2 separate regions of the Homo sapiens genome follow, and region 1 is linked to region 2. Evidence: fine-mapped expression QTL. A gene starts in region 2. The other region holds a variant in brackets. All regions are shown on one strand. Distances are between the middles of the regions.

Evidence for each region. PIP is the estimated chance that this variant, and not a neighbour inherited with it, causes the effect.
Region 1: its variant is fine-mapped to the expression of SPOCK3 in T cells (GENCORD, PIP 0.92).

What each region holds. Positions count from the first base shown.
Region 1 is chr4:167,280,097-167,296,152 of GRCh38, reverse strand. No RefSeq gene overlaps it. Among named protein-coding and RNA genes, the nearest start is that of SPOCK3, 54 kb to the right of the region's middle. The variant T/C (reference allele first, on the strand shown) is at 6,252.
Region 2 is chr4:167,225,954-167,242,009 of GRCh38, reverse strand. It overlaps SPOCK3 (SPARC (osteonectin), cwcv and kazal like domains proteoglycan 3), which reads left to right and starts at 7,516. Exons shown (of 11, transcript NM_001040159.2): 1 at 7,516-7,560; 2 at 7,837-8,025. The coding sequence starts at 7,837.

The DNA of each region.
Region 1 (16,056 bases), 54 kb before region 2:
ATCAGAGATTCGGTGGAAGATGTCAATATCCTTTTTTCTTTTAAATGTTGTACTGGTTCTAGCCAGTGAATTAAACAAGCAAATGAAATAAAAGTTACAAAGACTGAAAAGAATTTCTACTAGGGAAAAAAAGCACAAAATCAGGTATGGCCAAGAACTCAAGCAGGCGTATCATAAGATATGCAAATAGTCAATACATATGTAAAAAGGTGGTCTATTTGATCTGACATCAGTGAAATGGAAATTAAAAGTAATGCAAATTAAAAATAAGATACAACACATACTTTCACCAGTGTCTAAATGAATGATGTAACAAATGTAGCTGAGGAAATGGAAAAACTGATCTTTTATATATACAGGTGATAAAAAGTTTAAATTTCTACAGAACTACTGGAATTACCTAATAATGTTGAATATGCATATATCTTACTAACCAGAAAAACTACTTGTATGTTTGTACTCAATATAAATGTGTCTGTGTCTATGTATGTGTGTGTATGTATTGTTGACCTGTTAAGCTTGATTCAATTGAGAAAACAAGGTAAATTTACACATACACATATACACATAAACAGACACAGACACATTTATATTGAGTACACACATACACACACACAAACATAGACATATAATTTGTAATAGCCAATACCTAATAAAAATCTAAATGCCTATCAATAATCCAATGGTGAACAAATAAATTTTTATTTATTTATGCAATTTAATACTAGAGCAATGAAATGAATAATATTACCTTAAACACACCAACATGGATAACTGTCACAATGATAGAGGCAGGAGGCAGCTAAATGCCTAGGCAGATAGGGAAGGGTCTCAGAGAACCCCTGACCCACCCAGATCATTGTTTATAGGGGGCTGACCTAAACATGCCCACGGTGAAAAATTTCATCCCTTAACCCATGCACAATAAGGGAAATAAATCAATGTGGAGTGGCTCAAACGAAGGGCCCGCATGCACACTGGAAGCATGGGGTGGGCCCACCAAGAATTCATGGCTTATGCTAGGAAGGAGGAGCCTGGCCTCTTCAGCTCCTGTGTGGGAGCCCTGGTATTCAATTGTGAGGTGCAAACCTGTTTGCAGGACCCCTCTTTGCTGAGAGCCTTCCATTTGCTTATTAAATTCTGTCCTTCTCACCCTTCAATGTGTCCGCGTGGCTAATTTTTCCAGCTTGTGAGACAAGAACCGGATTTAGCTGAACTAAGGAGCAAAAATCCTGCATCAACAACATATGGCTGGATGAATAAAGACAGACATAAAAGTATAAATATATGTATATTTGCATTTATATAAAGTTTTAGAAGCAAAACTAAACTCTAGTGTTACTCTAGTGTTAGAAACCAGAAATTTTTTGAGGGAGAGTAAGGGAAGAGTTGATGGGTAAAGATAGGAAGGATTCTTCTTATACATTAAAAAATTTAAATTCTTGTGTTAGGTAGTGGTTACACAGATATTCTCTTTGAGATAATTCAATGGGTTTCACATGTATTTATATTTGCCTACTTTCCTTCTATATGTGTTTTATTTCAGTATTTTTAAAGCAAAAAGACAAAACAAAAATGTGAAAACTCTATTATTTTTAGATGGCATAATTTTTTTATAAATTCACATCTCTTTGTATTAGTCAAACTTCTTCAAAGAAACGAAACCAGTTGGATGTGCATATATAGAGAAAGAGATGATTTTAAGAAATCAGCCCACGTAATTATGGTAAATGGGACATCCAAAATTTACAGGTTGGGCCTGCAGGGTGGAGACACAGGGAAGGGCCAATGTTGCAGTTGGAATCCTAAAGACATCCGCTGGCCGAATTCCCTCTTGCTCGGTGTGGGGAATGGGGTGGGAGAAGTTAGTGCTTTGTCCTCTTCCGGCCTTCAACTGACAGGATGAGGCTCATCCACACTGCAGTGGGCAATCTGCTTTATTCACAGTCTGCTTTATTCAAAGTCTACTGATTTCAATGTTAATCTCATCCAAAAACATGCCCACTGAAACACCAAGAATAATGTTTGGCCACATATCTGGGCCACATATCTAGGCACCGTGGCCCAGCCAAGTTAACACAAAATTAATCATTACACTTCTTTTCTGAATCATATTTATATAAAACTTTTCAAATATTAAACAATATAAAATTATTCAACAATATACATATTGATTAAATGCAAGCCAGAAAGTGAAATGCAAAGGACTAAAAGCTATTATTCATTTTTTAAAGCTCAATCCTCTGTCACATTTTCCCCTTATTCCTTATAATAAATTTATACAAACCAATTAAACTTTAGTATTTAGGCATGGCTAACAGACAGCTGTTAAGTAAGTAGACTATAATTTGGGGAAGCGTATATAAAATCAATAGTATTTAAGATCATGTTATCAATTTTAAGTTTCACTTATACATAGAAAAATGTATTCTTAGCCAGTGTATAATAATTGATTAATGGTTTGATAACTATATGTTCTAGAATGTTAAAGCTAGATTGTCCAAATTTCTGTCTACAAAGAATTCATTTTTTATTTAATGATGACTGATCTCTCTAAGAATACATAATATAGAGACTTTTAAAATATATATATAATTCTGTTAGCAAAATGGGTAGACTTAGTAGTAATTTTCCTCCAAGTTGATTAGAATTCTAGGGATTTGCATTTTGGTTCAGTTTAATACATTTGTCAGATGGAATCTTAAATTATATAGTAAGCTCTGAAGGCTAAATTCCTTTATAATGGCATTGTTTCAAGATTTCTCATGCTGATTAATGCAAATCTCTAAATGGATTCTTATTTGGTTAACTGTAAAGCTTGATTCAATTGAGAAAACACTCAAGGTAAATTGTTTGCATCATTTAGGTAGTCACTTTCCCCTCAAAGTTGTACACAGCTCTGTTAGTGTTGTTTTTAAATTATCGTGGTTGTATTTATGATGTCTAAATTGCATGCTTTGAGATTGAATGAATGACATTAGTATTTCATAGATATGTTACTGGTCATTTTGATAGCATGCCCTGTGAAATAACAAAAATGTGGCTTATTCATTAGAGATTTGCAAGTAAATTCTACAATTTCATTTTTAATGATTGAGTATAGGGACTAGGTGGGTTTGTCTTATTTTGTTTTATGCTAGAAAACTAAAAATAGGAATAATTAATGGCTAATTTAAAAATATATTAAAATTTTCTCTAACACTTAGAAGGTACTCAAAGTCACCCCTTGGTCTATGATTTCCAATGTTGTCTTGCATTCTGTTCCAAACTCTCAGAAACTTTGATCATTAAAAATACACAACAAAAACAAAGTATTCTATTTCCTTACATGTAATCAGATACCTAGTTTTTAAATCTATTTTTATCTCCCTGCCTTCTCTCCCTCCATGTTTCTCTACTTAAGGTAAAGCTGGTTTGTAGACTTTTCTCTGCCAGGGAGAGAAACAAGAAAACAAGTTTAAATATGCCCCATATTGAGCACTGGAATTTGTAAAATAATTTTGTGTAAAGATAAAGGAATATTTTACTGATGAGAATCTTCAGGGGAATCTGCGTAGCATTTTTCAAAATGTAGTCTACAAACACCTGTGGGATAATCACCTGGGTATATTATTTAAATGTAGATTTCTGGACCCCATCCCGAATATCTGAAGGTCAGGGTGGGAGACTGGGATGGAGTACTGAGAGAGTGATAAACCTTGGATTCTACATATTCATTAATAATTTTCCTTTACACAGTTTTTTAAGAAAAATATCTGTTGTAGGATATTTTACACATTGGTAGAAATGTTTTTAAGTAAAAAAGGAATGGTAATATTTGTAAGCCAAGTTCTTCCTATCACAAACTTCCACTGTCAGCCTGATTTCAAATGAAGAATTATGCAAAGGAGCATACAAAATCTAGCAAGGTAAGGCCTTATAGGTTATTAAAATCTAAAATTCTAAGTCTACCTATTTGGACCAGAAAATTCTTTGTTATTGGGAACTATTCTGTGCATTCTAGGATGGTTAGCAACATTTATGGCCTCTACTCAGTAGATGCCAGGAACACGTCCACCTTATTGTGACAATCAAAAATGTCTTCAGAGAATGCCAAATGTCCCAGGGAGTAAAACTGCTCCACCTCTGTTGAGAAACTCAGGTCTAGGGAAATGTTCACAGGAAACGGATTTCTTTTTCTTGTACTTTCATCTACAAGTTCTATTTTTTGATGACTGTGAAATTTGAATAATCTGAAAAATATCTAACATTCATATAGTTGTTTATATTTTCAACTTTTATTACAAGTAGCCTAAAAAAGTTGGTCTACTTTTGACAAATTGGCTTTAACTGGAAAAGCTAATATTCTTTTTTGCCTCCCCGATCTATCAATCACCCTTTTATTCTACCAAACCATTATTTTGTCCTTCAATATTATTTTTTGGCTAACTAAATTGAGAGATTTTTTTTTCATGGTTAGAAATGGAGAGTCAAAAGTTATTTCAAACTAAGCTATTCTATTACATATAAATATTTTTTGTCCTTCCAGAGAAGTATGATACTCTGCAACCTTAATTAGCTACATTGCTAATAAATTATTGACTGAGTGTAAACAGTGGTAAAATTAGCCTAGTAATTTTATATTAAATCCCCAGTCTTCCATTAACTTAATTTCATAATTTCTCATTGGTACCACATTCAGTTAATGGTATATCGAATGTTCTCCAGTGTTTCAGATATGCATGAGCCAAAGCTCCCAAAGTCATGACACTCCCAGTCTCAATATGAGCTTTGCTGTTTCTTGGATCTACACAACTGCCTGCTGGTATCCCTGGGAGTTCCATTGAGGACTCAGAGGAACATATGGCCCTATGTATTGTGTCCTAGGTTCATAATGAAGAATAAGCACAAAACATGTCAGAATTATGCTGCACTGTCAGGAAAATTCCAATCAATGTAAGCTCAGCAGCTTTATTCTCTAGAAACAGTGTTCTGTCTCTAGAGAGCCACCTACGTGGGCATAAAAATGGAAAACAGCAGCAGTATATGCATTCTGTGAGCTGGCGTCCTAGAATGTTTAGTGGTTTTCTTAAAACTGCTTTCTGATAAATCTCCATGAAATAAATTTTTTCTACTTCCAGTAAAATAAATTTAAACTTAAAATAGTTTCATGTGCAAAAATAAAGTGTTGGTTGTATTTTAAGGATGAGAGGAGCCTTTTTTTCTTAATTAAAAATTTTTCCCCAGGATTAGTAGACCTCACTGTTGTATAAGTATTCAGAAATCACAAGGGGGCACTCTTTTACTAAATACACCAGGAAAAATGGTAAGATTTCAGTGTGTGACTTTTTTTAAGTGTTTTTTTTTTTCATAACAGTAGTTCTATTGATATATACAAAATACTATTTTTAATGATAAATTTAGAATATTCCTCACATGTTACTGTGTCCATAAAAAAAAATCTCAATTCACTAACAATTGCAGCACAAAGGTTAAATAATTGAACTCCCTTTAAAATTGTACTACAAAAATAATTTTCTCTTGAGAATGAGAAAATATTTCCATTGAGAATAAAAGTTTTAGAATGTATGGAAATGACATTTTTTTCTGCTTATACTTAGAAATATATTAATGAGTTTTCCATTTGCAATGTTTGTTTGGTCAGCTAGTAAACATTTAACATTCCATGAATTTTACATGATTTAAACATTTTAGCAGGAATGCATAATATATTTTACTTTAAAATGAAATTGTATTGTTCTCTTTATATGGTGCAAATGTTATCTGGAGTGTTTCAGAGATGGTAATGATATTTGAGGATGAACCAGATAGAGTTTTTACCGTTATGACAACATTAGGACTAGAAATATGAGGTAGTAGGAGTAGTAATAAACTAAGTGTTTCACATGAGTATAAAGCCAACATTATGCTAAGTCATAAGATAATCTATTCCTCTTATTAATAATCATAAATAAAAATGAAAAATAGATAATAACTCTTACAATTTTAATTTTAACACGTTTTATGTGAAGAGGCTAAGAGTATTCCAAGATGAACAATAAATGACAAATTTATTGATGTGGTATTACCATTTTAATTTAGGATGATTTCATTAGATTTCAATTGTTTCAAATGAATGATTTAAATGAAAGTTAAGCCAATCAATGAAAGAATTATGAATAATAAATATAATCATGTTTCCAAGGAAGCTACCTATAATATCTAGAGAAGAGCTTAGAGTAGTTAAAAAGTTCTAGGAGAAGTAAAAAGAA[T/C]CCTTAGTAGTTAGAAAAGGTAGGTGGGGCAAGATGGCTGACAAGAAGGAGCGGCGATCAGAGGCTTCCATCAAAAAGAACCATAATAGCATGTGAATCTTGCCCCAACAACCAAGCTATCCAGGTTTTCTCATCAGAACTGACTAGGCGGCTGGTATGATCCATGGAAAGGAAGGAAGAGCAATGTGGTGCCATGGCCCACCTGAGAGTCACAGAGGGCAGAAGAGCTCCCACCCCCCAGTCAAGGGAGGCACCTTCTTGAGTGACATCTACAGGCGTGGGAGCAAATCAGATGAATAGGGCCTGAAGAGAAAACCCAGCAAACCACAGCAGCTCTACAGAAAAGGGACCTAACCATTGAAAGATAAACAAACATACAGAAAGCAACAACAGCATCAACAACAACAAAAAGAAAAAGTCCCCACAAAAGCCCCATCCAAGGGTCAGCAGCCTCAAAGATCAAAACTAGACAAAGTCATGAAGATGAGAAAGAATCAACAAAAAACATGCTGAAAACCCAAAAGGCCAGAATGCCTCTTCTCCTCCAAATGATAGCAATGACCCTCCAGCAAGGGCACAGAACTGGACAGAGGATGAGATGGACGAATTGACAGAAGTAGGCTTCAGAAGATAGGTAATAAAAAACTCTGCTGAGCTAAAGGAGCATGTTCTAACCCAATGCAAAGAAGCTAAGAACTTTGATAAAAGGTTAGAGCTGCTAACTGGAATAACCAGTTTAGAGAGGAACATAAATGACCTGATGCAGCTGAAAAACACAGCACGAGAACTCTGTGAAGCTTACACAAGTATCTGTAGCTGAATCAACCAAGCGAAAGAAAGGCCATAAGTGTATGCAGACTACCTTGCTGAAATAAGATCCGAAGACAATATTAAAGAAAACATAATGAAAAGGAATGAACAAAGCCTTCAAGAAATATGGATCTATGTAAAAAGACCGAACCTAAGATTGATTGGAGTACCTGAAGGAGACGAGGAGAACAGAAACAAGCTGGAAAGCACACTTCAGAATGCTATCCAGGAGAACTTCCCCAACCTAGCAAGACAGGGGAACATGCAAATTGAAGAAATACAGAGAACATCACTAAGATGCTCCACAAGAAGATCAACCCCAAGACACATATTCATCAAATTCTCCAAGGTTGAAGTGAAGGAAAAAATGCTAAGGGCAGCCAGAGAGAAAAGCCAGGTCACCTACAAAGGGAAGCCCATCAGAGTAACAGCAGACTTCTCAGCAGAAACCCTACAAGCCAGAAGAGATTAGGGGGCCAATATTCAATATTCTTAAAGAAAAGAATTTTCAACTCAGAATTTCATATCCAGCCAAACTAAGCTTCATAAGCAAAGGAGAAATAAAATCCTTTCCAGAGAAGCAAATGCTGAGGGATTTCATCACCACCAGGCCTGCCTTGCAAGAGCTCCTAAAGGAAGCACTAAATATGGAAAGGAAAAACCGGTACCAGCCACTGCAAAAACACACCAAAATATAAAGACCAATGACACTATGAAGAAACTGCGTCAACTATGCACAAAATAACGAGATGGCATCATGATGACAGGATCAGATTCACACATAACAGTATTAATCTTAAATGTAAATGGGCTAAATGTCCCAATGAAAAGACACAGACTGGCAAATTGGATAAAAAGTCAAAAAATCCATCGGTGTGCTCTATTCAGGAGACCCATCTCACATGCAAAGACACACATTGACTCAAAATAAAGGGATGGAGGAAAATTTACCAAGCAAATGGAAAGCAAAAAAAAAAAAAAAAAAAAAAAAAAAAAAAAAAAAAAAAAAGCAGGGGTTGCAAAGCTAGTCTTTGAAAAAAACAGACTTTGAACCACAAAAGACAAAGAAAGGCATTACATAACAGTATAGGGATCAATTCAACAAGAAGAGCTAACTATCCTAAATATATATGCATCCAATATAGGAGCACCCAGATTCATAACACAAGTTCTTAGACACCTACAAAGAGACTTAGACTCCCAGACAATAATAGTGGGAAACTTTAACACCCCATTGTCAATATTAGACAGATCAGTGAAACAGAAAATTAACAAGGATATCCAGGACTTGAACTCAGCTCTGGATCAGGTGGACCTAATAGACATCTACAGAACTCTCCACCAAAAATCAATAGAATATACATTCTTCTAAGCACCACATGGCACTTACTCTAAAATTGACCACATAATTGGAAGTAAAATACTTCTCAGCAAATGCAAAATAACTGAAATTATAACAAACACTCTCAGAACACAGTGCAATCAAATCAGAACCCAAGATTAAGAAACTTACTCAAAACCACACAATTACATGAAAATTGAACATCTGCTCCTGAATGACTCCTGAAAAAATAATGAAATTAAGGCAGAAATCAAGACGTTCTTTGAAACCAATGAGAACAAAAAGACAGTGTACCAGAATATCTGGGACACAGCTAAAGCAGTGTTAAGAGGGAAATGTATAGCACTAATTGCCCACATAAGAAAGCTAGAAATACCTCGAATTGACAACCTAACATCACAATTAAAAGAGCTAGAGAAGCAAGAGCAAACTAATCCAAAAGCTAGCAGAAAGCAAAAATTAAGATCAGAACAAACTTGAAGGCTTTAGAGACCCAAAAAAACCTTCAAAAAAATCAATGAATCCAGGAGCTGTTTTTTTGAAAAAATTAACAAAATAGGCCAGGGGCGGTGGCTCACGCCGGTAATCCCAGCACTTTGGAAAGCCAAGGCGGGCAGATCACAAGGTCAGGAGATCGAGAATATCCTGGCTAACACAGTGAAACCCCGTCTCTACTAAAAATACAAAAAATTAGCTGGATGTGGTGGTGGGTGCCTGTAGTCCCAGCTACTTGAGAGGCTGAGGCAGGAGAATGGCGTGAACCCGGGAGGTGGAGCTTGCAGTGAGCCAAGATCGCGCCACTGCACTCCAGCCTGGGCGACAGAGCAAGCCTCCATCTCAAAATAAATAAATAAAATAAAATAAAATAAATACACCACTAGCAAGTCTAATAAAGAAGAAAAGAGAGAAGATTCAAATAGACACAATAAAAATTGATGAAGGGGATGTCACCATTGACCCCACAGAAATGCAAACTTCCATCAGAGAATATTAAAATTACTTCTATGCAAGTCAACTAGAAAATCTAGAAGAAATGGATAAATTCCTGGACAAATACACCTTCCCAAGACTAAACCAGGAAGAAGTCGAATCCCTGAATAGACCAATAACAAGTTCTGAAATTGAGACATTAATTAATAGCCTATCAACCAAAAAAAGCCCAGGACCAGACAGCTTCACAGCTGAATTCTACCTGAGGTACAAAGAGGAGCTGGTACCATTCCTTCTGAAACTATTTCAAACAATTGAAAATGAGGGACTCCTCCTTAACTCATTTTATGAAGCCAGCATTTTTCTGATACCAAAACCTGTCAGACACAGAACAAAAACAGAACATTTCAGGCCAATATCTCTGATGAATATCGATCCTAAAATCCTCAGTAAAATACTGGCAAACCAAATACAGCAGCACATCAAAAAGCTTATCCACCACAATCAAGTCAGCTTCATCCCTGGCGTGCAAGGCTGGTTCAACATACGCAAAGCAATATAATCCATCACATAAACAGAACCAAAGACAAAAACCACATGATCATCTCAATAGATGCAGAAAAGACCTGTGATAAAATTCAACATTGCTTCAAATTAAAAACTCTCAATAAACTAGGTATTGATGAAATGTAGCTCAAAATAATAAGAGCCATTTATGACAAACCCACAGCCAATATCATATTAAATGGGAAAAAGCTGGAAGCATTCCCTTTGAAACTGGCGTAAGACAAAGATGCCCTCTCTCATCACTCCTATTCAACATAGTATTGGAAGTTCTGGCCAGGGCAATCAGGCATGAGTAAGAAATAAAGTGTATTCAAATTGGAAGAGAGGAAGTCAAATTGCCTCGATTTGCAGATGACATGATTCTATATTTAGAAAACCCCATGATTTTCAGCCCCAAAACTCCTTAAGCTGATAAGCAACTTTAGCAAAACCTCAAGATAGAAAGTCAATGTGCAAAAATCACAAGCATTCCTATACACCAAGAACAGACTAAAGAGAACCAAATCATAAGTGAACTTCCATTCACAGTTGCTACAAAGAGAATAAAATACCTAGGAATACAGCTAACAAGGGATGTGAAGGATCTCTTCAAGGAGAACTACAAACCACTGCTCAAGGAAATAAGAGAGAACACAAACAAATGGAAAAACATTCCATCCTCATGCATAGGAAGAATCAATACTGTGAAAATGGCCATACTGCCCAAAGTAATTTACAGATTCAATGCTATTCCCATCAAACTACCATTCACATTCTTCATAGAATTAGAAAAAAACTACTTTAAATTTTATATGGAATCAAAAAGGACCCCATATAGCCAAGACAATCCTAAGCAAAAAGAACAAAGCTGGGGGCATCATGCTACCTGATTTCAAACTATACTACAAGGCTACAGTAATCAAAACAGCATGGTGCTGGTGCCAAACAGGCATACAGACAAACAGAACAGAGGCCTCAGAAATAACACCACACATCTACAACCATCTGATCTTCAACAAACCTGACAAAAACAAGCAACGGGAAAAGGATCTCCTCTTCAATAAATGGTGCTGGGACAACTGGCTAGCAATATGCAGAAAACAGAAACTGGACCCCTTCCTTACACCTTATACAAAAGTTAACTCAAGATGGATTAAAGACTTAAATGTAAAACCCAAAACCATTAAAACCCAAGAAGAAAACGTAAGCAATACCATTCAGGACATAGGCATGGGCAAAGACTTCATGACAAAAATGTCAAAAGCAATTGCAATGAAAGCCAAAATTGACATATGGGATCTAATGAAACTAAAGAGCTTCCGCACAGCAAAAGAAACTAGCATCAGAGTGAACAGGCAACTTACAGAATAGGAGAAAATGTTTGCAATCTACCCATCTGTCACAGGTCTTATATCCAGAATTTACAAAGAACTTGAACAAATTTGCAAGAAAAAAACAAACAACCCCATCGCAATTGGGTAAAGGATTTAAACAGACACTTCTCAAAAGAAGACATTTATGCGGCCAAAAAACATATGAAAAAAAGCTCAACATCACTGATCATTAGAAAAATGCAAACCAAAACCACAATGAGAAACTACCTCATGCCAGTTAGAACGGCAATTATTAAAACGTCAAGAAACTATAGATGCTGTTGAGGCTGTAGAGAAATAGAAATGCTTTTCCACTGTTGGTGGGAATGTAAATTAGTTCAACCACTGTGGAAGACAGTATGGTGATTCCTGAAGGATCTAGAACCAGAAACACCATTTGTCCCAGCAATCCCATTACTGGGTATACACCCAAAGGATCATAAATCATTCTATTATAAAGACATATGCACACATATGTTTATTGCAGCACTATTCACAATAGCTAAGACATTTAATTAACCCAAATGTCCATCTATGATAGACTGGATAAAAATATATGGTACATATACATCATGGAATACTATGCAGCTATACAAAGGAATGAGATCATGCCCTTTGCAGGGTCATGGATGAAGCTGGAAGCCATCATCCTCAGCAAACCAACACAGGAACAGAAAACCAAGCACCACATGTTCTCACTCATAAGTGGAAGTTAAACAATGAGAACACAAGGACACAGGGAGGGGAACAACACACATCAGGGCATGTTGGGGGGTGGAGAGCCAGGGGCAGGAACTCAGAGGATGGGTCAATAGTGAATACTGGCAGCAAACCACCATGGCACACGTATGTCTATGTAACAAACCTGCACATTGTGCACGTGTATCTCGGGACTTAAAGTAAAAATTTTTTTTTAAAAGTTAGATATACTTCTGGCTCTGCCATTTCATTAGTTGTACAACTATGCGTCTATCTATTAACCCCTGAGGTTCTCATTTTTTTCATTGCAAAATGAGAAAAACTTTATTAACTTTTAAGTCCTTTCTATTTCTAATATCTATGGTTCTAATAATGATCTTTAATAATAGTTATGCCTCATATAATAAGCAATCGTTTGCTCATCCTTCAAGTAATTAAGAATCAGAACAGTTAGTAGAGGAAGACAAACTACTTATTCATGGAGTTCTTAAATGTCAAGTTACATGATGATATGTCCTAAGATTGCAATAACCCTATGTGAAATTTTACAAAGCAATATATAATAATCATTTATATTAAAATATATTTAAGAAATTTGCAGGACCTAAGTTAACATTCCAGCAAAGTTATGTGACTTTTGAAAATAAATACTGTTGAACCAACGCTAGAGAAATGACAGTCACCGTTCTAAGCCATCAGGGTGGGGATTTTAGAATTTCTTCTCATTATACTAAGATTTGCCTTTTAGAATTTATATTTATGCCACATATAATCATATGTTGGTTGTGGTTCTATGTATGAATTTTTATTATATTGATTTTTAAAATGGCCTGTGTAATTTAAGAAAATGTTACTATTAATGATTACATTGGGCACTCATTTTTACATTGGGTTTAATCATTCAATTTCAACAATATTTCATTAGCTTCTTGTTCACAGAAGCCAAACCATATGTCAAAAGCTCACAGCTGGTTTTAGTCACAAGCTTTGAATTGGAATTTAAGTTTTCTAGTTGAAATCCCAGTGATTTCCCACAATGTAAGAACTACCAGAAAATATGTTTTCTGTGTAGTTGACCATTAGTCTGAAGCTTTAGAAATATCTTAAATTTTAAAGCTATAGATACTTGAAAAAAAACTATGTTTATCACAATTTGCTTGTATTAAAATACAATGGACTCTAATCACATGGATGTTTTAAAGAAAACTGCACCCCTAAAAAAGAAAGTCCAAGTTCTCTGTCAACATATTTTCTTAATATTGTCATGGTATATGTCTACATCACGGTCAAAACTGTCGTGGGTTTTGAAAAAATATGATAATATCCTTTAAGGAGAGATGGTAAAAAAAGAAAATAGATATGACTGGAGAAGTGTTTAAATGCTAGAGCCATGAAAAATCTCTTTTTCATTCAAAAACAAATTTAATTTGTTTCATTCAAAAACACCTATTGTTTTTCAAGATATACTCTATTGACTCAGACCTGAAATTCTGAGTAATGCACATACACCAGGAATGACAAATCACACTGAGAAAAGACAATGTGTATGACCGCATAGTCTTTCTGTAATATATCAAAATGTGAGTCTGAGGTATCATTTTCTCTTTTTCTTCCTTTTCTTCCTTCCTCCTTCTTTCAGTTTTTCCTTTACTAATTCTTCCTACAAACTGTCTTTGACTTTATCCTTCTCTACTTTATTTTTTATACAATATAATTGCCTAGTAATTTTTTCACATCAGTTATCTGCAATATTTCCAAGAATATTTTTTAGACATACTAGTAGGAAAATGCTGTGTTTCTGTTTCCTGTGTTTGTTTTTTACTTAATGATTCACCCAGAATTTAGTGATGGGTTGAGTCAGGCTAGATTTTTATGCCAATAAATGTAATCACCAGCTGAATGCTTTCTCTTCCAACACCTTTTATAAAACTAAATGACTCATCATCTTTCTTTAAATTAAAATATGTGGCTAATTTTCCCTTTCACTCATAATATGCATTATAAAAATATTAAACCCTAGAAAATAATAACAAATACTAGGAGGGAGGAGCCAAGATGGCCGAATAGGAACAGCTCTGGTCTACAGCTCCCAGCGTGAGCGACGCAGAAGACAGGTGATTTCTGCATTTCCGTCTGAGGTACAGGGTTCATCTCACTAGGGAGTGCCAGACAGTGGGCTCAGGTCAGTGGGTGCGCGCACCTTGCGCGAGCTGAAGCAGGGCGAGGCATTGCCTCACTTGGGAAGCGCAAGGGGTCAGGGAGTTCCCTTTCTGAGTCAAAGAAAGGGGTGACGGACGGCACCTGGAAAATCAGGTCACTCCCACCCGAATACTGCGCTATTCCGACAGGCTTAAAAAACGATGCACCACAAGATTATATCCCGCACCTGGCTCAGAGGGTCCTACGCCCACGGAGTCTCGCGGATTGCTAGCACAGCAGTCTGAGATCAAACTGCAAGGTGGCAGCGAGGCTGGGGGAGGGGCGCCCCCATTGCCCAGGCTTGCTTAGGTAAACAAAGCAGCCCTGAAGCTCAAACTGGGTGGAGCCCACCACAGCTCAAGGAGGCCTGCCTGCCTCTGTAGGCTCCACCTCTGGGGGCAGGGCACAGACAAACAAAAAGACAGCAGTAACCTCTGCAGACTTAAATATCCCTGTCTGACAGCTTCGAAGAGAGCAGTGGTTCTCCCAGCACGAAGCTGGAGATCTGAGAACAGGCAGACTGCCTCCTCAAGTGGGTCCCTGACCCCTGACCCCCGAGCAGCCTAACTGGGAGGCACCCCTAGCAGGGGCAGACTGACACCTCACACGGCCGGGTACTCCAACAGACCTGCAGCTGAGGGTCCTCTCTGTTAGAAGGAAAACTAACAAACAGAAAGGACATCCACACCAAAAACCCATCTGTACATCATCATCATCGAAGACCAAAAGTAGATAAAACCACAAAGATGGGGAAAAAACAGAGCAGAAAAACTGGAAACTCTAAAAAGCAGAGCGCCTCTCCTCCTCCAAAGGAATGCAGTTCCTCACCAGCAACGGAACAAAGCTGGATGGAGAATGACTTTGACGAGCTGAGAGAAGAAGGCTTCAGACGATCAAATTACTCTGAGCTACGGGAGGACATTCAAACCAAAGGCAAAGAAGTTGAAAACTTCGAAAAAAATTTAGAAGAATGTATAACTAGAATAACCAATACAGAGAAGTGCTTAAAGGAGCTGATGGAGCTGAAAACCAAGGCTCAAGAACTACGTGAAGAATGCAGAAGCCTCAGGAGCCGATGCGATCAACTGGAAGAAAGGGTATCAGCGATGGAAGATGAAATGAATGAAATGAAGCGAGAAGGGAAGTCTAGAGAAAAAAGAATAAAAAGAAATGAGCAAAGCCTCCAAGAAATATGGGACTATGTGAAAAGACCAAATCTACGTCTGATTGGTGTACCTGAAAGTGATGGGGAGAATGGAACCAAGTTGGAAAACACTCTGCAGGATATTATCCAGGAGAACTTCCCCAATCTAGCAAGGCAGGTCAACGTTCAGATTCAGGAAATACAGAGAACGCCACAAAGATACTCCTCGAGAAGAGCAACTCCAAGACACGTAATTGTCAGATTCACCAAAGTTGAAATGAAGGAAAAAATGTTAAGGGCAGCCAGAGAGAAAGGTCGGGTTACCCTCAAAGGGAAGCCCATCAGACTAACAGTGGATCTCTCGGCAGAAACCCTACAAGCCAGAAGAGAGTGGGGGCCAATATTCAACATTCTTAAAGAAAAGAATTTTCAACCCAGAATTTCATATCCAGCCAAACTAAGCTTCATAAGTGAAGGAGGAATAAAATACTTTACAGACAAGCAAATACTGAGCGATACTGTCACCACCAGGCCTGCCTTACAAGAGCTCCTGAAGGAAGCACTAAACATGGAAAGGAACAACCGGTACCAGCCACTGCAAAATCATGCCAAAATGTAAAGACCATAGACACTAGGAATAAACTGCATCAACTAATGAGCAAAATAACCAGCTAACATCATAATGACAGGATCAAATTCACACATAACAATATTAACTTTAAATGTAAATGGACTAAATGTTCCAATTAAAAGACACAGACG
Region 2 (16,056 bases):
CCAAAATTAATAACCTAATTTCCTACCTTAAGACATTAAGAAAAAGGGAGCAAAATAACCCAGACAAGCAGAAGGAAGAAAATAATAAAGATTTTTTTAATTAATAAAATTGAAACCAGGAATATGTTAGGTTGATGCAAAAGAAATTGAGGTTTTTGTCATTAAATGTCATTAAAGGTAATGGGAAAAACTGCAGTCACTTTTGCACCAATGTACTAACAGAGAAAATCAATAAAACAAAAAGTTAATTTATCAAAAAATTAAAAAAAATCATAAAACTCTAGCAAGACCAACAAAAGTGGAATGAAGAAACAAATCACCAATATTGGTAATAAAACGGGCGCTATTACTACAGATCATGCAGCCACAAGAAACATGTGAAGAGAATGGTACAAATAACTTTACACTCGTAAGTTCAAAGACTTGGGAGAAATGAATCAGTTCCTCTAAATCCACCCACTACCAAGCCAAGATGAAATATATAATCTGAATAGTTCCTATACCAAGTAAAAAATTAAATTTGTTATTAAAAACTCCTTTAAAAAGTCAAGAAAAAATACCTCAATTCACAGTACAACCCGAGCTAAATTGAGCTGTGTCATTGTTGATTGCAACCCAGAGCTTGATTAGAAGAGTAAACTTTTAAATTATTGTTGCCTGTTTAAAAAATTGTAAGAGCAAAAATATTTTACTTATTAAAAAAAACAAAAGAGGAGTTTGCATTATTGATCTGTGCTATCCCATGTGTATTTATGTTCTAAAAAGTAAGACAAGAATTTGCTTGATTCACAGGGGAATTCTCTGAGCATCAATGAGCACTAGAAAGCTTTCCAGGCAGCTAAGTGAGGCATATTAGATTGAAAAACACTTCAAAAACATTATTTTAAGAGAGATATTTTTTCGCTTCAACTTTTCACTTAGTGTTATACACTCTATTTGTGTCTATATATTAACATTTTAGATAAGGAAAAACATTATTGTGAACATCATGTCATTTCACATCTCTCTGATTTTATCTACCTTCTTCCCTCCACAAGACATGTTATTTTTACCACTCTTTTTCTGACTATTAAGGCTTATTTTTCAAGGTTCACATCTTGTCTCTTAAATGACCCCTTTCTTTGCTCCCACAGTATCCCCTGCAAGTCTCTGGTAGAAATCGGTTACATTTGCCATCTTTGATCCTGCCATTGGTGAAACAGTGCTCTAATCTTCTGTTCTTTGAAGAACTAGTCCCTCTCAGACTTACAAATCAAAGATTTGGTAGAGACTGTTTCCTATCACTGCTTGAGTGTTGGGTTATCACTGTCCACTTCTCATCATCTTTGCCACCAGGGATTATTTTAGGGTTGGACATGTAACCAGATGAAAACCAATATGATACAAGGTCAGAACTGTTAAAGCTTCCAAGGTGGAGGAACTCTTCTTTTCTTGTGAATGAATTTTAGGAAAAGAATCTCTCCCTTTTCCATAATGTGAGATTTGTAAGTGCTATGCCATTGTTTAAGGCACCTGAATTTGGAAGGTTGAAGTTTCATGTTATAAAGTCCACTGATTGAACTGGCACATGATGGAGAAGCTCACCAGCTTTGTTTGAGCTGTTTGTCTGAGGTCAAGCCTACCTGTCAACTTTTTATTTCTATAGGACAATACATTCAGATTTCAGTGCCCTCATTAATTCAGGAAGAAACCTGCTCCATATATTATCTATCTTCACTCATTGTACTCTAATTAAATTATTAAATTATGTGTTTTTGCTCACAAGAGTGTGAGAGATCATGTTTCAACTTAGCCACATTTTTTATCCCTAGTTTGAAGCTTATTGTATAACATTTAGAGAACAATCAATAAACATATTTAAAAATTGTTTCACATTTTAGTTTAATTTTTAAACTAAAATTAAACTAATGCCTGTTAAAGCCTGTTAACATCCTATTCCTTTCCTTACTTTCATTTATCTTGTAGAAAACGGGATGCTTGGCATGGTATGTATGGACAGTAATCTTAACCTTATACTCCTTCTTAGTATGACTGCCTCACATTAAGGGAACTCTCCATTTACCCAAGAGGACAGAAATAAGTGGCATGAATTTGCAATAGCACTTGGGATAGTTTTTATCCTCTGAAAATAGCTAACCCATGGTAATTTAACAGCGAATGATATATAATGCCCGTTTTGCACTGGTCAGCTAAAAATAAACAAACAACAACTTACAAAGATAAACATAGAAGGTTCTTTGTAGATCTTGACTATAGAAACTCTATAGCCATTTTAGAACAATATACCTTACTCAGCCAAGTAGAATTCTGAGTCAAAGAATAAACTGGCTCCCCATATATTTTTATATTAAGATCATTAATAAATATGCAGGTTTAACAAAATTTTAAAAACACATTGGTATAAATCTCAAGAACCGAGGTGTTTTTAGAAACCTTTTTCACATGCAAATTTTTAAATTTAATAGTCTTAATATAAGAATGTGTGTCTTTCTGTGCATGGGCATAGAGTGAAATTATTTTTAAAATATTCTTAAACATTTTATTTTATCCTTTTTTGTGTCAGTGTCTCATAGCCCTCAGGAAAATTTAAATATTTATAATTAATGCTCATTGAACTTTTCAGAAAGTCTTTATTTTACAAAGTCAAAACATATATCTCAATTTAAAGAAAACACAAACTTTAATTGCCTTATTGGCCATTTTCCTATCATCTCCTTAGTAATCAGTTAATTCAGTCAGTTTCACCCTATGGTTTAAATGTTGAAAAATACCTTTTTAAGAATTATAGTAATTGAACTGACTAATGAGTTTCCAATATCTACTACAGCTGTTAAAGTCTGTTTATCTACTGAATGTTTTAGATTAAGTTAAATCACAAGAGGTCCTGTTTATCAAATTAGGTACCTAATATCTTCCAAGTTTGCTTCAGTGGGTTCATCTCTAAAAACAAAGAAACAAACGAACAACAACAAAAGTCTGTTAACATCCTATTCTAGAAATTCCATTCTGGTTTTGTTTGTTTTTGATATCCTCAATGCACATACTAGTAATGGTGCTACTTTCTATTAAATTAAGAACACACGATTTTTAAGACTTACAAGACTTCAGTAAACACAATTCCAAAATGAAGACATAGAGTGTTCCTTCTTGACATCATTTTATGACGTCTTTAATTTACTCCTGAGTTTTTAATACCCAGGGTTTTCCTTCATTTTTTTTCCTCTTTTATATGCTTAATTTAAACTCAAAGATGGATTTGGTATAAGGCACCATTCTAGATGGTTGACTTTTATATATCAGGTATTGTTTCCCTAGCCTTATAATGAAATATTTCAGAAATGGCCAAATTTTGTTTTTAGGTTAACTCATATATCATTAAACTACAGCTTTGGGTGAAGTCAGACACTTGGAAATCCCTTAATGCACATGTCTCCTTACCTTCCACCAGCTGGGAAGGTAATGGGAAGCATGTATTCCTACAGGGAAGACAAACAACACTTGCTTGATTGGCAAACACTTTTGCAATAAGGAGAGAGAGGCAGTCTTGGTTAATTCTCTTCTCAGCCAACCAGTCGGATTGCCTGCTGGGCTACTGGCTTGATGCTGCTGAGATGAAAGATTCCAGTGGACAGGGTCATCATTTGAGTCAGGGACTAAGGTGCTCATTATACAAGTGGAGCTGCTTCTGCCTAGCTTAGCAAGCTCCCTGAAGTAGCCATTCTCTCTTTTCCTGCCTTTAATTATAGATGAGTCCTAGCTCTTACTGAAATAGAGATAGATAAATAAATATGCAACAGGTGGAGAAGGAAAGATATGGGGGCAGAAGAATTAAAGAGCATAAACAGAAGATGATTCAGAGATATTTCTACATAGAGAAAAAATATCTAGAAACAAAGTAGCTTGATCATTCTCCAGAACTTTCCTTTGCACTTAGTAGCTATAGGATCTTAGGCAGTGAAGGCTAAAAGGTATCATGCATGTAAATTGCCTGGCTCTGTGTGTGGCACATGGAAGATGTGCAATAAATTGGACCTTTCCTGCATATCCTCATGTTGGTTACAGATAATGGAGTAGCATGCTTTTATAGTTGTTGGGGAAAAAAATAACCTATGAAAGACCACACCGTGTGTGTGTGTGTGCACGTTGTGCACGCATTTAAATAAATGGAGTTATATGAAGGTCATGGATCCAACCTCAAAGGCGGTTAGAAATGGACCAGCTGTCATTATATATGCTTAGCATTTTTATTTCTAGAGCTGTGTCATGTCTGAAAATGAGGGTAAGGAAACCTTCAGAAGAAATACATTTAATTAAAATAATACCTATCAAAAATGTTCCTTACATCTTTCATGATAGATATTTGTGGACTGATTTACTGAACGTTTAGAGAGAAAGAACAACTAAAGGGACAAATACACAAATATGAAAGCAAAGTTCAATCTAGCAGTGGCCTCAGCATTGGCTTTTCATAATGTATCTAAACTATGTTTCTGCATCAGGTGGCAGAATGACAACAAAGGGGCTGGGAATCTGAAGCCCTGTGTCTTGCTCTGAGTTCCAATTTTGTAAAGCATGATCTGAAAAATAAAATCAAGTCCCAGCCCTGGCACCAGCGTCTCACTTTACCCACCTCATATGCTGCACCCCACTTTCTGCGTTTTTGGCTTCTCCAGTTTTTTAGACTGGCTCTCCATCTATCTGGGAAGCAGTCAGTGAAGTATTTCTTGTCTACTCACCTACCTTGACATACAAGGCTCCTGACTACTCTCTTCCAATATCTTACTGCCCACCTAATACTCTTCCCTTATTATTCTCTGCTGTGTTTTGCTCTCAGCAAGCTTTCAATGAATCCCCACTGAGGTGATAACTGATAACCAAGGTGTTAACTGAAGTGTGAATTCTCCTAGGATTATTTAAACCTTGAAAGCAGGCTGTTTGAGGACCAAAATATTGATATATAGAGAAACTGATAGAAACCTTTCCCTGTGATTAATAACATCACAACATCACACCTACTAGACTTTGACTCTCACTACCAACATGCCCACTTAGCCTAGACAATGGCAATGGCTTGGAAAGAGAAGCTTAAGGAGCTGTAGGAGCAGTCAGGTGACTGGACCACACCAGGCCAACACAAATACACTGTAGACAGGCTCACTCTGCCTCTTTTGACTTTAGAATTTTAAACTTGCAATTTGCTAGTAAATCCTACTCTATCTTCAGATCTGTAGTTTAAAACCCTATCAAAGGCATTTCTCCCAAGATGAATTCAACTGTCATTGTTTGTTTTCAACAAATTTCACAACTTGGAGACGTCCCTGTGGAGCTGCAGTATGGGAAGCTGCCAGTGAAAGCTAGATGTGAAAACATGCTCTGAACATTGGAGAGTCAGCCACAAAATAGACGTATTTGGGGGGGAAATGCTGTATAAACATAAATATATGTGCTTCCATAAATCTAAAGGTGACCATGTTGGCCTTAGATGGTGCCAGTTATTGAGCTAAAATGTATAGCAGATGCTGAAGGGGATGAGTGTTAGAGCATTATTCCTCATCAAGTATTTTGTAGCTAATAACAACTATCTTTTTAAAAGGTAAGTTACAAAGGTTAGAAGGTCATTTTTACTTTTAGAATTACTGACTTCTGCCAAGTATCAGTTTCTTGTAAGAAACAATTTCTGTGCTTTCCCTATTAGACTTAAATTTAGAAATAATGAGGTTTTAAAACATGATGAGATATTCTTATTAATAATAAAGTATTTCTTCAAATTTTGAGGAAGAGAGCTAAGGATGAGAGTGTGGGAGGTCAAAGGACCAGGGGTCAGGAAAAGGTGATAGTGGAGAATGGACCACCTACTATTGTCTTAATAAATTTACTAAACAAGAATTTAAATATGTAAACTACATGGTAATAACCCTCTGTGAACAGGCAAAAATAAATATCTTTGAAGAATTAGCACACATCTATATTCTTAAAGTTTTCTGACATTTGTTCGTGTCAATCAGGGCTCCCATGAATTGCAGTAGTATGTTCCGTGTTTTTCTCCACTAATTGCATTCATCACTGTAGAAATGGGGGGAATTGAGAAAAACATCTTTTTCTGAGTTAAAAATAGTAATAGAAATTTCTTTCCTATATAAATATTACACTTATATTTCCTACCATACATATTATACATTTATTTTGAAATATTACATTAAAAAAGGAAATTAACATTAAACATTGAGTTTGGTCGTTTTGTTAATATAGATTGCAAAATGTTAGACGAGATTGATATGGAAAATGTGTACTGCTGCTATTCGAATAGCTTCTGAAGTTTTGGAGGCTACAAGAAATGTTCAAAGGTCGTAGCTTTGGGAGATGTAGTTTTGGCTGAAATCTCTAATAATTCAAATAGAGATTCATAATGTTATTGCAGTCTATTGGCTTGCAGACATTTCTTGATTTATGTGTAATATTCACTTCACCTAAATTCTCTAAATATGAGAGATTCTCTGTATCAGATTTTCTCTACAAGGGGCTAATTACTGATTTCCTTCCAGTTTATTTAGAATATGTAGAAACGACATGGAAAGCCAAATATTTTGTCATAAATGGAAGTTTGGAATACAAAATTGGTGTTCGGGCTTCAAAACTGTCTTATTTTGCAGGAGGGAGACAGTAGGCTTTTAAAGTTTCCGATTCAGGTTCTACGTTCTAAAATAAAGCTGCCAGGGAGTTTTTATAAAGGGAAAAATGCAGCTACAGTATGTAGGAGATATAGGTGTTCTCAAACGCCCTACCTCGTTATGCTTCTGTCTCTCAAAACAAAACACACACACACACACACACACACACACACACACACAAAGGAAAAGAAAAAAAGAAACTGCAACCTTTAACATGAAAGTTTGCTGTCGGTAGTAATCCAGAAGCTCACAGCAAACTTTAAATTTTCTGAAATTAAACAGATCTCCCAAGACCTTGTGGATAGATGGCCTTTCTTTAGGGAGGAGCTGAGTTCAGGAGCTTTACAGGGTAGGAAGTCCAGGTATTCTTATTTATTAATGCATAAAGTTTTCCTCAGATCTTGTTTCTCACGTCTGCCTGACAACCCTGGAAATTGTGGAGCAGAGGCAACTGCGAGAGATAGTACACTTTGTGTTAAATCCAGGAGCAGAGAATGAGCAGGCTGTCTCGCGAACATGAGAACCTCTTCTGGAGGGGAGAGGTTACAAAGCAGATAAGGATTCCTAGGCTAGGAGCTACCTCGTCCTCTGGCTCCAGCCAAGCGTCCTATCCGGAGCCAACTGTAGCTGGGATCCAGCGAGAGGAAGGTGGGATAGGAGGAGGTGGAAGAGGAAAAAAACGGAGGTCGGGGAGGGAGGGGGAACGGAGGGGAGTAAGCTGGAGATCCGCGCGCGAAGGGAGGGTGGAGATGGGGGGAGCGCGCCGGGCGCAGGGAGCTGAGTGGACGGCTCGAGACGGCGGCGCGTGCAGCAGCTCCAGAAAGCAGCGAGTTGGCAGAGCAGGGCTGCATTTCCAGCAGGAGCTGCGAGCACAGTGCTGGCTCACAACAAGGTGATGTGCCAGGAAGCGGTTTTGTGCCCGCTCGGGCTGCTGCGGCTGGGGCTTGCTTCCTTATACCCACCTCTCCTCCTCTGGGTCTGCGTGTGTGTGAGTGCCCGGCTTTTGGGGGTAAAGCCTGCGGGGAGGGGACACGCTTGCCTCTGCTTGTCTCCTCCTCCCTCTACCCTCGTCGTTGCTAATGCATGTTTTCCAGGGTCGCTCCTGGCTTCGTACCCCTTATTTGACACTGACATGCCCCCCCACCCCCCGTTGTGTCTCCTCTCCCAGATGCTCAAGGTGTCAGCCGTACTGTGTGTGTGTGCAGCCGCTTGGTGCAGTCAGTCTCTCGCAGCTGCCGCGGCGGTGGCTGCAGCCGGGGGGCGGTCGGACGGCGGTAATTTTCTGGATGATAAACAATGGCTCACCACAATCTCTCAGTATGACAAGGAAGTCGGACAGTGGAACAAATTCCGAGACGTAAGTTCCGCGCACCCACATCCCCGGGCACACGCGCGCGCTGCTCCGAGGCGGGGGCCGCGGCCGCCGGATGTGGGTGGGGAGTGGGCTCCGTTTTCTGAGGAGAGGGGTTTAGGGAAACGCGGCGGCGCAGGGCTGCTGGAGAAGTTCACAGTTCCGCTGCCCCCTCCCAGCTGGTTCAAGGGCTTGTTTCTTGGATGCACAGGAGTTCAGGTCTCACCAGGTTCACACTCTTCCTCCCCCACCCTGCTCTCCCCTGTGCCCCCTCCCGGCCCACAAAGGTTACAAAGTGCTGGCTCTAACCTCTCAACTTTTGAATGGTGTTTCTGGCACTGGTAAACACAGCAGATGTGCCTTTGCGATGTATCGCTACTAAAGTAACTAGGATCGATCCTGTCACTAATGGTCCATTAAGGAATTTGAGGGAGGAGGTAGGAAGATGTAAGATTTATAAATGCCCGCTCTCCAAGGGTGGGAGGATGTTTGGCGGCACCAGTAAGGACTCGTTGAACGCTCCCGCTTACATAAAATTGTCGATCAGATTTGTGCTTCGACATGACTTTAATCTAGAACATCTTTGCAATGCATTTGATTATATTTTATTCCAAAATGAATCACTGCCTTGAACTCTGCGGGAAGAGGTTGCGAGGGCGGGAGGATTGCAGGTGACAGCGATAAAAGAGTTAAACCATAGACTCCCCTGGGGAGTTTTCAAAAGGGTTATTAAGAGGGAGCCAGGTTTCCACACTTGAAGCTAGTGGCCATGGCTTGCCAGTCATTTTTATTTTCCTCACCTGATCTGAATGGAGCCCAGTAAGAGCTGCTCACGTACAGAGCACGATACAACTGGAAGCCTTGAATTTGGTTGTCCCAGTGAGGAGGCCGCCCTGTTGGCTGAATACCGCCCCTAGCCCACCCTTTAAAACGCGGAAGGCCTGAACTGGAGCGAGAGTGGTTCCTAGACACATTGCCAATCCTTACCGTGACATTTGAGAGAATTTCTCGTGGAGTCCATCTGCAGTGCACTACGTGGAGATGAGTTAACTTCTTTCATCAGCTCCGACTCAGTCACCATTTAGGAAAATAAAAGGGAGCCTAGGCTAGCTTTCATCCTGCCTCCTCTAACCCATTCTCTCAGCCTCTCCATGAAGTAGCTGACAAGCCAAATCTAGCAGAGGGATTCCTGAAGAAACACAAATTTTTACTTTAAAATTAGGTTTAGCCATTTGATTGAGAATATTTAATGGAGAACCTTGCCTACATACTTCATGAACAAAGCTTAAGCATCATTTTATTGCTAAATAAATGCCCTTATAAAAGCATACCCGTTGCATATTTGTTTTAAGTTTACACCAATATTGAGTACAAGCAAAAAGGATAGCGAGTGAGATATTCCTAAACCTAAAGAAAATTTGTTTATCATGCCCTCATTTGGCAAAATCAAAAACAAAAACGAAAATTGAACACTTCATCAGTATTTGAACAGTGTTTGACATTATGACATTTCATTATTTAATGGCTGCTTTAAAATCTTCTAGAAATGAATTTTTGAAAGACCTCCCAACAATGGGATATATTTAGTAGGTAATACTGGTTGCATGCTGTTTTCTATTTGTTTTGGGTTTTTTTTTTTTTTAATAAAATCAACTACACAAGATTCCTCGCTGGGAGAATTGTAAGAGTATTACTATCTTCAATGAGAGCAGAGATAAAAGCTTTCTTCTCTAAAATGTATTTTAAATTTTGAATAACTTAGTATTCTCTTATTTTATTCAAATTACTTTATTAAATTATTGAGGGACTTGGACAGTTTGTGAATGTGTTTGACTTAAACTATTGAGACAAGCTGAGTTGCCTACTATAGAGCTAAATATGCTAGAATTTATGGAGTCAATTTCTATAGAGATGGAGATTTTATTGCTATATCATTCTCAGTTATTCTAGGATCTCAAGGAAAAAGTCCATCAAAATTGTACATAAATTTTAAAAAGGATTTACTGATACATTTTATGCAAATATCTGTTTTGAAGTATATGCAACACCTAAAAATAAATATTGATTTATTTGAAAAACTTTCATCAGGTTTTAGTATTACCATTTTAGTAAGACAGTTATGTTTTTGCAAAGATGACTTCTGGAGGGAATGGAGCGGATAAATGCCATCATTTTTTACCCTTGAACCACCTGTTGCTTATTATTAACATGATGAAAGGTATGCTGACAGTGTGGTTTCTCAAATAATAATTCAGAATGCATAATATATAATCCTTATCTAGACCATCCACCCCACTGCTATTTATGTATATTCTTTCCCTTTTGGGGAATCATTAGCTTAATAATCTTTTCTGTAGCTCTCAGGATGTTATTTTTCAGTTGGTTTTCAGCTGGAAGCACATGGCGATAAGGCATTACTTGAAATAATACTATACTGCATGAATCTACCTTTAAATGTTCTGCATGAGCATTCATATCTCAAATAATGATTTATGTACTCACTTTATATGAGGGCAAAGAAACATGGAATTCTGAACCTCTTATTTGAGAAACAATTTAACTGAAGTACTTTTGTGCTTTTTTCCCATAAAATATAATTAATTTTATTTATACAAAAGCCTTGGAAAGCATCAGCATAATTATTGCTTGGATTAATCCTTATGATTATTTTTTCTTCCGAAGTGACTGTTTTACATAATCAGCACTGTTTAACAAGTGACTCCTTAATGAAAGTTTGAACTGTTCTTTCTTTTGAAATACATTTTAAAAGTATCTTAAATAATATTTAAAAATACAATTTAGCATTATATTTTAATTGAATAATTTTAAAAATAAATGTTACTCTTTATATATTTGTAATATACGTATGTAAATATAATTGATTTACAATAAAGCTTTAGGAACAAAGAGCATGGATAGAGTTACGAGAGAGTAGGTGAGCATAAAAACTACTGCCGTTGAGGCTCATTTTCTTGATTTCCTCAATATAAATGCTAAAGAAGCAATGAAAGCAAAGACAAGCTTACAGTGAATAGGTATTAACACAGGAGAAACAAGCTTGCAATGAGTAGGTGTTAACACAGGAGAAACCTCAAGTATTTTTGACTGCTCTATGCTAGCAATGTCTGTTGAATAAAGTTTGTTACCTTTGTTGTCCTTTTGAAGGACGCTTGGAGTGTACGATGCTTAATGTTATAGACATAAAGAGCTTTCACTGTTTTGAAAATTATTAATTTATTTGGTTATTAGTATAAAAATTCTGATAAGGATTTTAATATCTATGTCTTAGGAAAGCATACAAGTTTCACTTAATCTAAAGATACAGAAAAGTCAACACATTTAAACATAAGTACAGTAGATAGAACCAGCATGCTTTACTTAGGTTATAATTATGTGATTTTGAAATAAAATAAAATAAGAACTCCCTCAACAGTGGTATATATTCAGTAGATATACTGGTTACATGCTGGTTTTTTTTTTTTTTTTTTTTGGTGGGGGGCTCTGTTGACTAGTGATAAAATTAAGTACACAAGATTCCTCAGTGGGAAAATTGTGGGGTACCATTACTTTCTCCCAGAGCAGGAGTAAAGGATTCATTCATCCCATTCTTGTGAATATATTAGGAGAATTGGAAATCAGCATCGTTATGAGGAAACTGAATTATTAGCTCGAGTGGCTTATGTATTGCATATTTCAAATATTTATATTTTATAGTTTAATTAAACCATACCCTTTATCATGTAATAAATGAGTATGGAATTTGGAACCAATGAATTACTTAGTAATGCATGGTATAATAACATTATCAAAATTATCTATTATTGATTTCACTGAAATACATAAATTAATTAGGAATGACAAAAAAAGATAAAATATGAGAAGCCCTCAAATATTGTATTTTGGAATCAATATAATAAAAACTTAGAAAAAAGAGGAATGATGGCCATGCTAATTTTTAAGTAACTCATATAATAAAAACAGGATTGTACCCTTTAATGGAAATTCAAATAGTTCTAGATTAAATTAAATTTGTTTTTCAATAAAAATACCTGGGGCTCATTCTGAACTTTTTGTTTTAAGGAATGGTGACCACTAGTGTTATAGAAACCATAATCAACTTCAGTTTACATTTATTCCTTAAGTGATGTTTAATATCCTTTGGGTATATTTAACGTAATAATAAAGTTCTACAGTTTAACTTTACAGATTTAACCTTAATGTAAGCTAAAGAACATGTAGAATATTGAGAAAATGTAAAATACAGGCTGACATGTCTCAGAGGCACTCAAATTATAAGTTGACTTTTAAAAAATATCTGATTTGTGGGTGTTGAATAGTAAGCAGAACATTCTTAATTTGTTTTTTCTTTTTATTTGCCTTTTTCATCTAAGGTGAGGTTCTTAAGTGCACAGATTATTTAAGAGATAATGGATGATGGTGTGGGATATTTCCTGGAACTTAGTGGGCTACAGAGGGGTAAAGATTCTCGAGGGTCTATCAACTTCTACTGTTGTTAGAAAGTAAATACAACAATTTGTTTCTATGTCTACTCCAAATAAAGTATTCTATGGCTCTACAGGCCATTAAAATTCAAACAATGAGAATCTTTAAGGAATGCTCTCTCAGTACTTTGTTTAGGTTTATGATGTGCCTTGATTATATTTCTTGAGTTACAGGCATACTCTTAGCATTGAGGGATCCTCCTTTCTGGCAACAAAGTTGTGCTATTATACTTTTCAACAATATGTATCAAAAATAAAATTAAAGATTTATTTGTAATTTGGATATATTTAATAAAGTGAACTACTGTTCTCTCTGTTTAAGAATGCTTTCTCAATAATGGATATCCAATTCTTATGAAAATGTACATTTTCAGTGTTTCTCACTATGAAACAACATTTGTAACTGTGGTAATAATTACCTATATTTCACTGTAGTTGAGAACATAGGCATTTCTTGGGAATTCTTCACAGTTAATTGAGTGCATTATCATGAGTGTTTTTCTCTCTTTCTTTTGCTTTTTTGGTGATTACAGGCACTGGGTTTAGTTCTTAAAAGCTTGTGAATATAGTGTATATATTTGCAGATCAGAGCTGGTGAAGACTGTAGCATGCAGTAATATTTTTATTGGACTATTATTCATATTGTTTAAATCATGGGGAGATTTAATGGAGAGAGGCAACTGACCTCTTAAGAGAAGCAATAGGCAATCTTTGATGATTCTGGGACCAGTGAGTAACCACAGCAGCAAAGGGCTAGGCTCTGGCAGCATCCTGACTCTTGTTTTTGTCATCAGGATCCTAGTTAAGCCGTGATCACAGCACAAACTCCACACTCCTATTTTTTAAACCTGCTACTACAACCACTATCCTGCTTGCCAGTCAGGATTTAAGTTTGGTTTTGTCATCAGGTTATCACATGACGAAGGAAGGCAGGTCAGAGAATGTCCACTGATCTGCTTGTTTCTGAAGGGAATCTTAGCTAGAGCTGGTATCACATTATCAGACTCTGTCAGGAGGTATGAATTGATCACAAAACTTTACTCGATTTTCTATGTGTTTATCCTAACAGAAATTAAAGAGAAGCAAGCAATACTTTTAACCCTCTAGCTTTCATAACTTCCAGTCAATGACTAGAAAAGTGTAACTAAGTGTAAAAGTGTAAGTAAGAGAAACAAATTACTCTATGTATGTTGTATATGTTTATATGTATTTATGTGCGTAGATTCTTGCATAAATGTATATCTACATATATGTGTTATGTGTGTATGTCAAGTTGACAACAGATTAATCTGAAAACAGAGGCAATTATATATTGTGCTATAGGTTTTTTGTATGCACCAGATATGTGTATAGTTATTACACATAACATGTTGAGTAGAAAGCCAACATCCATCTAGCCACCCCCAAAATGTTAAGACATGTTAGGTTTCTTTATTTATTTCTTTTCTTTTCCTGGTTAGGTTTTCTGCATCTTATAACTTGAGATGATTTCATTTACTGTTACATGTGTGGACACAGTGTGCTTTTCTGTTTCTTACAGCTAGTCAGCTTGCTTGGGATTATATATTTAAACTTTTTATCTAGATATACAAAAGGAACATCGTGTACCACTATAGAGCATTTATGTTGCTACTCTGACAGTAAGACTTTGGGGTTGGATGCTTTTAGATCTTATGATTGTGACTCAGAGTGACATTTTATGTTCTCACACAACTTTAGTTTTCATGATCTGGGTCATAATTTTATTTCATTTTATGTACTTATTTTTAAAGGCTGATCTTTGACTTCTGTAAATACTATCCAAGTCCTGTAAGCTCCTGGAGTATTTATATGTCTTTTTTCATTTATGAAAATCATTTCATCTTTTCTATTCTTTCTACCTCTTCTAGTTTACAGATTTGGACACCCCATTAGACTGTGAACTCCCTACAGCTACAGATTGTAGTCTCCCTTCCTCTCCATGATCCTACAACTCACCTAGCATTACCACAATAATTGTCTCAGAGTTATCACTAGAAAATACTTACTAAATGAGGTGACATTATATTCAAAATACATTGCCAATTGAAAAATCCTTACCTAAAGGTTTTTTAGAGCTGTGTTGTCTTTTATTGGCCAGTTCAATTTCTGGCCACCTCAAGCCCAGTTTTGTAATTTAAATAAAAATTCAATTTTTATAAAATATAAAGTTATAAGTATTGAACCACTTTAGTCCTATAAGTTCCAAAACTTGCCAAAATAGAAATGCCGTGTCTAAGCTGTCGTGTCCAGTTTTAGAATGGTCAACAGCAGATGACAATGACATGCATCATGGTGCTCCCTTGGCCAATTAGTTCAATTCTTTTTTCCACAGTTCCTCTTCAACAACATAATTGTGTTGCTCTAACATCTTTAAATATTTTTGCTGCCTAATAGGTAATATCAAGCACTAGCATCTTCCCTTTCTTCTTCAACTACTGAACTTCAATTAATGGTTATATAGGTAAATCCAGATACTTTACTGACAGTTCAGATTTATTTCTTTCTCTTCCACCTCACTTACAACTGCCAATGCGTTGGTTAGAGAGAGGTTAAGTTCCTGCAGAAAGGAGACCCTGAATCAGAGTACCCGAGTAACGATAGAATTCTCTTTTGCAAGCATGAGACCATCAAGAAACGGGTGTCCAGGCCTGGGCTTTCAGGGTTACTCCCTCAAGCAAGCTTCTCTATTAATGGCCATTTCCTATCTAACAGGAGGCGTTTAAGAGAAAATCTAGGACAATCACCTTGTCCTAGAATTCACCTGAAAGTCATCACACATTACTTCTACTTGTATCCCACAGGCCTGAACTTGGTTACATGTCAACACCCAGCTACAAGGGATACTGGGAAATTTAATCTTTAATGGGAATGATCAGCACTAAAAGAAAGCAAGCGATACTCAATACTCGGAGAAAATGTTGGTAACTACGGTATCTGGTTATGCTCTTTCAATCATCTAAATATCTATTGAAAATATTCTCAGTCTCCATCCCCGTGTCCTCTGATGGGAATGTTTTTTATCATTGCCTGTCAGTTGTTTGCCTCCCTAATCAATCTTTCTTCCAAATTCCATATTATCCCAGTATCCTCTTAGCCATGATGGACATGCTTGAGTAGTGCTTGCTGGGCCAAAACTATGACACCTAGTACCTACTGTTCTAGATGTAGGAGTTTGGTAGTAAGTAGTAGAGTGCTAATTTCTAAAAGGAAATTTTGAAGGTCAAAACCAAAGCAGAGTGTCCAAAAAGCTACCATGTTAAGGAGAGACTGAATCTACTTACCAATGCTGTTTTCCTTTAGTGAAATCATTTAGCATGACTTCTGTGAAATCTTTTTGAGCTGTAGAGCTTTGGTCATAGGAATGGAATTCCTTGTGTTAAGGCATTAATGGTGATTGGTGGGCAAGAATCAGAATTTACTTCTCACATCTCTTAGTTAAAGAACAGGATATTTTCTTGCTGTTACTGGTGTATTTCCTCCGATGCAGAAAAAGGAAAGTACCACTAACAACATT